2 linked regions of the Homo sapiens genome follow. The protein of the gene in region 2 purifies or fractionates together with the protein of the main gene of each other region. This does not show direct contact. Each region holds a gene or a part of one and is shown on either strand. Other genes may lie near its edges. The genes, in order: FAM81A and OR5C1.

Evidence for each region.
Region 1: the proteins of OR5C1 (region 2) and FAM81A purify together in Homo sapiens (affinity purification with mass spectrometry; one large-scale study listed by BioGRID and IntAct). This does not show direct contact.

Annotation. Positions count from the first base shown.
Region 1 is NC_000015.10:59,436,867-59,441,205, reverse strand, and holds the start of FAM81A (protein FAM81A), read right to left. Parts: upstream 3,021-4,339; 5' UTR 2,924-3,020; exon of another isoform or gene 2,576-2,923; intron 2,551-2,575; exon of another isoform or gene 2,142-2,550; intron 1,252-2,141; exon of another isoform or gene 1,083-1,251; intron 1-1,082.
Region 2 is NC_000009.12:122,787,731-122,790,689, reverse strand, and holds OR5C1 (olfactory receptor 5C1), read right to left. Parts: upstream 1,758-2,959; coding exon 795-1,757; downstream 1-794. UniProt on the Homo sapiens protein: Odorant receptor.

The sequences.
Region 1 (4,339 bases), on a different chromosome or scaffold from region 2:
AAGAGGAATAACAAATGCAGCCAGTTCCCAAAAGAGGTGAGAAGGAAGGAATCAAGTCCAGAGAATGAAGAGTGTGGATTGCATGTGGATTAACCTTGGGGAAGGGACTTGTAGACATTTTCTTCCTTTGAGAAAGACGAAATAAAGAAGGACAAAGAGAGGAAGAGAAAGATGCTTGGGGGCCTTGAGGAAGGTAAAGTGGGAATTTATCTGGTGAAATTAGAGCCAACGTAAATTTTCAATGGAACCTGTCCAAAGGTCTTTGTGACTTCCTCCTAGATAATGTGGCAGGCTGGGAGAAGAATAAGCAGGCAAGCGGGGGTGATTTTGGATTGAGGACTGAAATATAAGAAGCCCAACACATTGAAACAAAGGATTCTGGGATCCCAGACAGAATGGAAATGGCCAGCAACTTACATGCCCCAAGTGGAGAAACAGAGTCACAGAGGGGCTGAAGGATTGGAACAGCAAGTGCTTAAGGGACCAGGGTCCTCAGCGATGGTTAAAATCCAGAGCAGTATGTGGGTAGTATCAGCTAAGTAGGCTGAAGTCCGAGTTCAAGATCTCAAAGGTTTAGTCTTGTTCAAGACTGAACAAGTCCAAGATGTTAGTTGAAGCAAAGTGGAAACTGAGGCTACTGGGATAGATGTTGAGGAACTTCAAGGTCAAAGAATTAAGAGAGCTTCAACACAAAACCCAAAGTCACTGGCAAGAGACAAAGCAGAGAAGAGAATGAAGCTGGCTGCTCACGTTTTTTGTTTGTTTATCCCTTTTTTGGGGCATCAAGTGAAGAGATCCCCACTGTACCTGGGTGTACATCAGAATTGCCCAGAGAGTTCTGTTCCTTCTCTTCATCGTCTCCTGCTGCTCCTCCTTTTGGGGTTTGTTTTTAAAGTAGGGATTTTTAGGTCTTACTCCCCCACCCTGCCCCAGCCCCCAATGATTCTAATTTGGTATATCTGAGAGAGTCTAAAGACCAAGTTTTTCAAAATGTCCCAGGTGATTCTGAGGAGCCCCCAGGTTTGGGAAGCACTGGACCAGAAGATAAGAAGGAGGGTAGGGGCACAAGCAGATAGCACTACCTTCCGAGAGGAGACTTGGTTGGTGATGGTGCATTGGTTTGGAGGCAGCACTAAGGAGAAGCGGAAGAGCATCCCTACTCTGGTGAGACGGTGGAGGACACTAGAGAAGGCTCTTCTGCGGCAAGTTGTTCACTCAGGCTCTGGTGCTCGGGAGAGAAGGTGGGTTCAGCTACATAAAAAATGAAAATGCAAGAGTGTGGCTGCAGGATACAAGAAACAAGACATTTAAAGCCAGGTCGGAGTGACACAGCCTAGTGGCCTGCAGAGAGAGGAGGCTGAATAATGCGCTAATAACGTTTCCAAGCACCATGTAGTGTGGCTCATTAAATGGTTGGTAGGGCTTCATGGTTGAATTCCTGGACACTAAGTATTTTTCTATCCGTATGCTATCAGATTTCTAACATGTAACACATTAAAGGTTATTAAGCCCTCAGGTAAACAAGCTTGCAGAAGCTTATTCATTAGCATTGGAAACTGTGTCTTCCCAACCCACGTTCTTATACAGATGAAATCAGATTCGAATGAAAATCAAGGGTAGCTTTAAGTAGAAAGTCAGAAGGGGCAACCAGGGGTACCTGTGAGAGGGTACGTCCTCCATTCCCCTCCGTGGAAGAGGGAAGTTTATAGACAGTGGATATGGAAGGGGGCCTAAGTGTCCTTTTTAGTACCAGTCAACGCTAAAAATATTATAAGTGCCAAGGAACCCGCCCCCCCCAACACACACACACACACATACACACACGCGCATTCAGTGACAGGGCCCAGAAGGCAGATACAATGTGCAAATCTGGGGATGGTTCTCAATAAAGAATATATTTACTCTACAAACCTCTTATTTTAAAAGCAAGTTGCAAATGTTTGCCCTTGCTTCTGAGAGAGCTGCACTTTTGTGGATTCGAATCATTCTAGCATTATTTCTGGTTACTCCTATGAAATAATTTCCAACACTGCCGTACGCAGACTTTGAGCTGAGGACGAGAGCGCACGCGCACACACGCACACACACACACGCGCGCACACACACACATAAACCTCGTGCACATTGAAGAAATGACTCACTTAATTTGCTGCTGCCTGCCACGATTGGGTTTTGATTTTACCTGTTCAAATACAAAGTTTCCTATTAGATTAACTACAGGAAAGAAGAACTTAGGAGCATTAATCCTGATTTTGTTCATGTCTTTAGGGCACCAAAGAGGTTTTAACCTGTGCATCTTAAGAAGCCATTCTCCGGACCACCGACTGCTTGCTCCATAATCTTCCAGACAACGATAACATTTCTTACCACTTTAGGAGCCAATTAATGGAAACCCCTCCTAGAATAAACATGGTTAAGCTTTGCATCTCCGGTACCTGCAGAACCGTACTTTAGGGCTCTTTCTCAGCTCGCAGTAGGATGGCACAACAGCATTCTGGAACTGCAAAGACCCCCTAGCCTCTCGTTTGAAAGATGAGAAAAAGCGAAGGGGCGGAAGAGCAGATGGTTAACCTACCCAAGGTCACTCACTCTGAGTAGTGGGTCGGCTGACTCGCCTTTACCCCTGGCAATCCGTGCACCACCCCAGCTCCCCCAAACAGTCCCTCCGGGCGTCGGTTGGTTCGCTAGCATGCAGCCCCCGCGAAAATGCAACGCCAGTTGCGCTCTGTGCCCAACTTCAGCCCTTCGCGTCACATGCAGTTAACCCTCTCGCCCGCGGCATGTCACATGGGCCACGCGCAGCTCTCTCTACCCCACGCCTATCTCCTGAGAGGCTGCCCCAAGGTCACCGGCCGTCCCAGAGAGCTCCCGCCGCCCAGCCCCAGAGGCCGCCCGGCCGGGGTTCCCAGAGCGCGGCACTCACCGGCGCGGGGGGTGGGCGCGCCGCGGCTGCCCATGTCCTCGCCGGCGCGGCTGGGTGCGGCGGCCGCTGGCGCTGGCTGAGCAGGGCGCCCGGCTGCGGGCCCGCGCCGCGGGGAGCGCCGTCCAATCAGCGCGCGCCTGCCGCCTGGCCCGGCGCGCGGCCCGGCCGGGTTCGCGGCTCCCGGGGGGCGCGAGCCGCCGCGCGCCGCCGGAGCCGCTTCCGGGCGCGTTGCCTGGACGCGGTTGCCGTGGCAGCCCGAGCTGGAGGCTTTCCCCGCGCACCCGCGCCCAGCCTGGCGGCGCCGCCCCTCCTCCCTCCTCGTTCCCACACCCAAAATAGCCTCTGCTCGTCGCTGCTGTTTCCCACAGAGCTCGCATCCAAGCGCCTTGGAGTTGGCGGGCGGGGATTTCGCTCATTGGAAAATAAATCCTGTTGTAGGGATGGTTGATTTGGAGAGGTGTTGAAATGGTGCCTGACGGAGATCATAGCCATGGTGGTGGCACTGCAATTCTCTCTAGAGCCCCAATATACCTTATTTACTAAACCGCTTTCCCACAAAAATAGTTCTCTCCCCCGCCCCACCTCAAATTGGGGAGAAGTTATTTGATTAGGCCACGGTGACGCCCCACCTGTGCAGGTGAACGAACCCTCCGGGGCTGCCATGTGTCATTTACTGAATCGCCTTGACACCTGCAGTTGGGACCCAGGATCGTGTCTCATCGCAGCAGACACGACGAGAAGAAGAACCCCGAACACCCCTCCTCTTCCCAGCCCTTTCTTCTCCCGTCAGCTTCATCCCCTCCCAGCGCGTCCTGGCTCTTTCCACCTTCCTCTCGATTTTGGATTCTCATCAGGACGCACAAGCCCATTCACTCATAATTGTGCTTCCTCTCGGTGGGCAGGATTTCAGCGGAGTTGCGGGGGACACGACCTTTGCCTCATCTGGTTCGTGCCTCCTTCGCAGATACTGGTACTTACCCAGCACAGGGGCTCCTGTCTGTCTCCCCCACCCCGCCCCAGCCTGAGCCCTTCCAACCCAGGGGAAGGAGCCCGACATGGTAGAAGAGCCCGAACTGTGGATTCGGCTGAGCGGTTTTGGAATTCTCTCTCCGGCAGCATTATTATTTAGGGGCTATTAGTATTAAGGACTGTTATTTGTGTGTGATCTTTGAAATATTTGTGGGTATTCTGCGACTGTTTCCTCACCAGTAAAACGGGCTAATAACTTCCACAAAGCGCTAACGCATCTGTAACATTCATTCAGCCAACAGTATCTATTGGATGGCTGCCAAGTGCTAGAAACTATGCTTAGCCCTGAGACACAATGGTGAAGATGAAAAAGAGACACATCACTTTCTGATCCCACAGAGCTTAGAGCCTGACGAGCATTCATCAAATAATCACAGACACATGTTA
Region 2 (2,959 bases):
TTTTAACTTTTAAGTTCAGAGGTAGTACATGTGCAGGATGTGCAGGTTTGTTACACAGGTAAATGTGTGTCGTGGAGGTTGGTTGCACAGATTATTTTATTACCCAGATATTAAGCCTAATATCCATTAGTTTTTTTTTTTTTTGCTTCTCTCTCTCGTCCTACCCTCCACCCTCCGATAAGCCCCAGTGTGTGTTGTTCCCCTCTATATGTCCGCATGTTCTCGTTGTTTAGCTCCCACTTATAAGTGAGAACTTGTGGTGTTTGGTTTTCTGATCCTGTGTTAGTTTGCTGAGGAAAATGGTCTCCAGAGCCATCCACGTCCCTGAAAAGGATATCATCTCTTTCTTTTTTGTGACTGCATAGTATGCCATCATGCCCAGCTTATTTTTAACAATTTTTTTTTTTTGTAGAGATGGTGGGGGGGTCTCCCTGTGTTGCCCAGGCTGGTCTTGAACTCCTGCCTTGGCCTCCCAAAGTGCTGGGGTTACAGGCATGAGCCACTGCACCCAGCTGAATATTGAAGAATGTTTTGAATGTTGAAGAACCTGAGGCAGTGCAACAGAAACATTAGCCTGGTCTAGCGTCTGGCTCTAGGTCTAGCCCTAGATGAACCCCAAATCTTTTTCTCCCTGCTATAAGCTTTCATTTCCCTCTTTACTGTCCCTTAAACAATGACATGAGACATCCAAGCCAGAGGAACATCCCATCTTTACCGACAGTGACGGGGCCAGAAAGAGGCCCCGACCTTCCTCATCCCCTCATAGTCAGACCTACCCAGCCTCCCTGGACCAATCACTGGGACCCCTGCCCTGGACAGTGGAATCGGCTCCAGGTCTGCCTGAGGGCCTCCTTGACCTCCTTATTGCGGAGGCTGTAGATGAGTGGGTTGAGAGACGGGATGACCAGGGTATAGAACACAGAGGCCATCTTGTCAGTGTCCAGGGCATAGCTGGAGCTGGGGCGCAGGTACATGAAAATGAGTGTCCCGTACATCATGGCCACGGCTGTGAGGTGGGAACCACCGGTGGAGGCTGCTCGCCGACTGCCCTCGACCGAGCGCATGTGGATCACAGCCCCAGCGATGAAGCCATAAGACACCGTGATAGCTAACACCGTGGCTGTCTGGATGAAGCCACAGATGGCGAAGAGAAGGAGTTCATTGAGACTGGTGTCACTGCACGAGATGGCCAGCAGTGGAGGGATATCGCAGAAGAAGCTATTGATCTTCCGGGAGCGGCAGAAGCTCAGGCGGAAGGTGAGGGTTGTGTGAACAAAGGCACTCACTGCCCCACCCAGGCCTGATGCTCCCAGCAAGGCCAGGCATAGACGCTGCGACATAGCTGTTGTATAGAGAAGTGGGTTTCTGATGGCCACGTAGCGGTCATAGGCCATGGCTGCCAGCAAGCAACACTCAGTATCAGCCAGACCTGCAAAGACAAACATCTGGAGGGCACAGGCTGTGTAAGGGATGGTGGCTCGGGGCAGCAGCAGGTCCACTAGCATCTTGGGGCCGATGGCGGAGGAATAGCAGGCATCCAGCAGGGAGAGGTTGGCCAGGAAGAAGTACATAGGTGTGTGGAGCCGGGCATCCATGCGGATCAGCAGCGCCATGCCCATGTTTCCCAGCAGGCTCACCAGGTAGACAGGCAGGCAGGTCAGGAAGAGGGCCACACGCAGGTCCCAGCGATTTGTGATGCCCAGGAGGACGAATTCAGCAGGGGCAACCGCGGCCCGGGTGAGGTTCTCTGAGTTCATCCTACTGGACAGAGACTGAGAAGAGGCAAAGCAGGAGGGAGATAAGAGCAATGGCAAGGCCATGGCCAGGGAGAAGAAAGCATCCTGTACTGGGAGTTAGGTAGGCTTGGGTTTCAGCTCACCTGTGCAACAAAATTGCTGTGACCTTGAGCAAGCCACGTAACCTCTCAAAACCTGTTTCTAACTCTTAGAAGTCATTGCAGAAGCCTTTTTTTGTTTTTGAGATGGAGTTTTGCTCTTGTTACCCAGGCTGGCGTGCAAAGGTGTGATCTCAGCTCACCACAACCTCCGCCTTCTGGGTTCAAGCGATTCTCCTGCCTCAGCCTCCCAAGTAGCTGGGATTATAGGCATGTGCCACCGTGCCTGGCTAATTTTATATTTTTAGTAGAGATGGAGTTTCTCCATGTTGGTCAGGCTGGTCTCGAACTCCCAACTTCAGGTGATCCGCCCACCTCAGCCTCCTGAAGTGCTGGGATTACAGGCATGAGCCACTGTACCCGGCCCGTCTTTTTTTCTTTTTTCTTTTCTTTTCTTTTCTTTTTTTTGAGATGGAGTCTTGTTTTGTTGCCCAGGCTGGCGTGCAGTGGTGCAATCTTGGGTCACTGCAACCTCCGCCTCCTGGGTTCAAGTGACTCTCCTACCTCAGCCTCCCGAGTAGCTGGGACTACAGGTGCCCGCCACCATGCCCGGCTAATTTTTGTATTTTTTAAGTAGAGGTAGGGTTTCACCATGTTGGTGGTCAGGCTGGTCTTCAACTCCTGATCTCAAGTCTGCCTGCCCCAGCTTCCCAAAGTGTTGGGATTACAGGTGTGAGCCACCACGCCCAGCCTTTTTTTTTTTTTTTTTAAAGAGACACAAGGTCTCACTATGTTGCCCAGGCTGAACTAAAATTCTTGGGCTTAAGTGATCCTCCTCCCACCTCAGCCTCCCAAGCAGCTGGGATTATAGGCATGCTCCACCACACCCACAGGGGTCTTGTCCCTCTTATTCACTTTTGTGTCTACAGCACTGAGAGCATTGCCTAGCACATAGCTGGTGCTCAAAAAAGATTTGTTAAATGAATGAATGGGATGATATTTAGTGTCCAGCCAATGATTGAAAACTTTGTGACTCTATATGCATTCTCCTCTCCAGTTTTCCAGGTAAGAAAAGAGACAGTGGAATGAGCAGAAATAATCTTCAGATCCAACGGGCACCTGGCC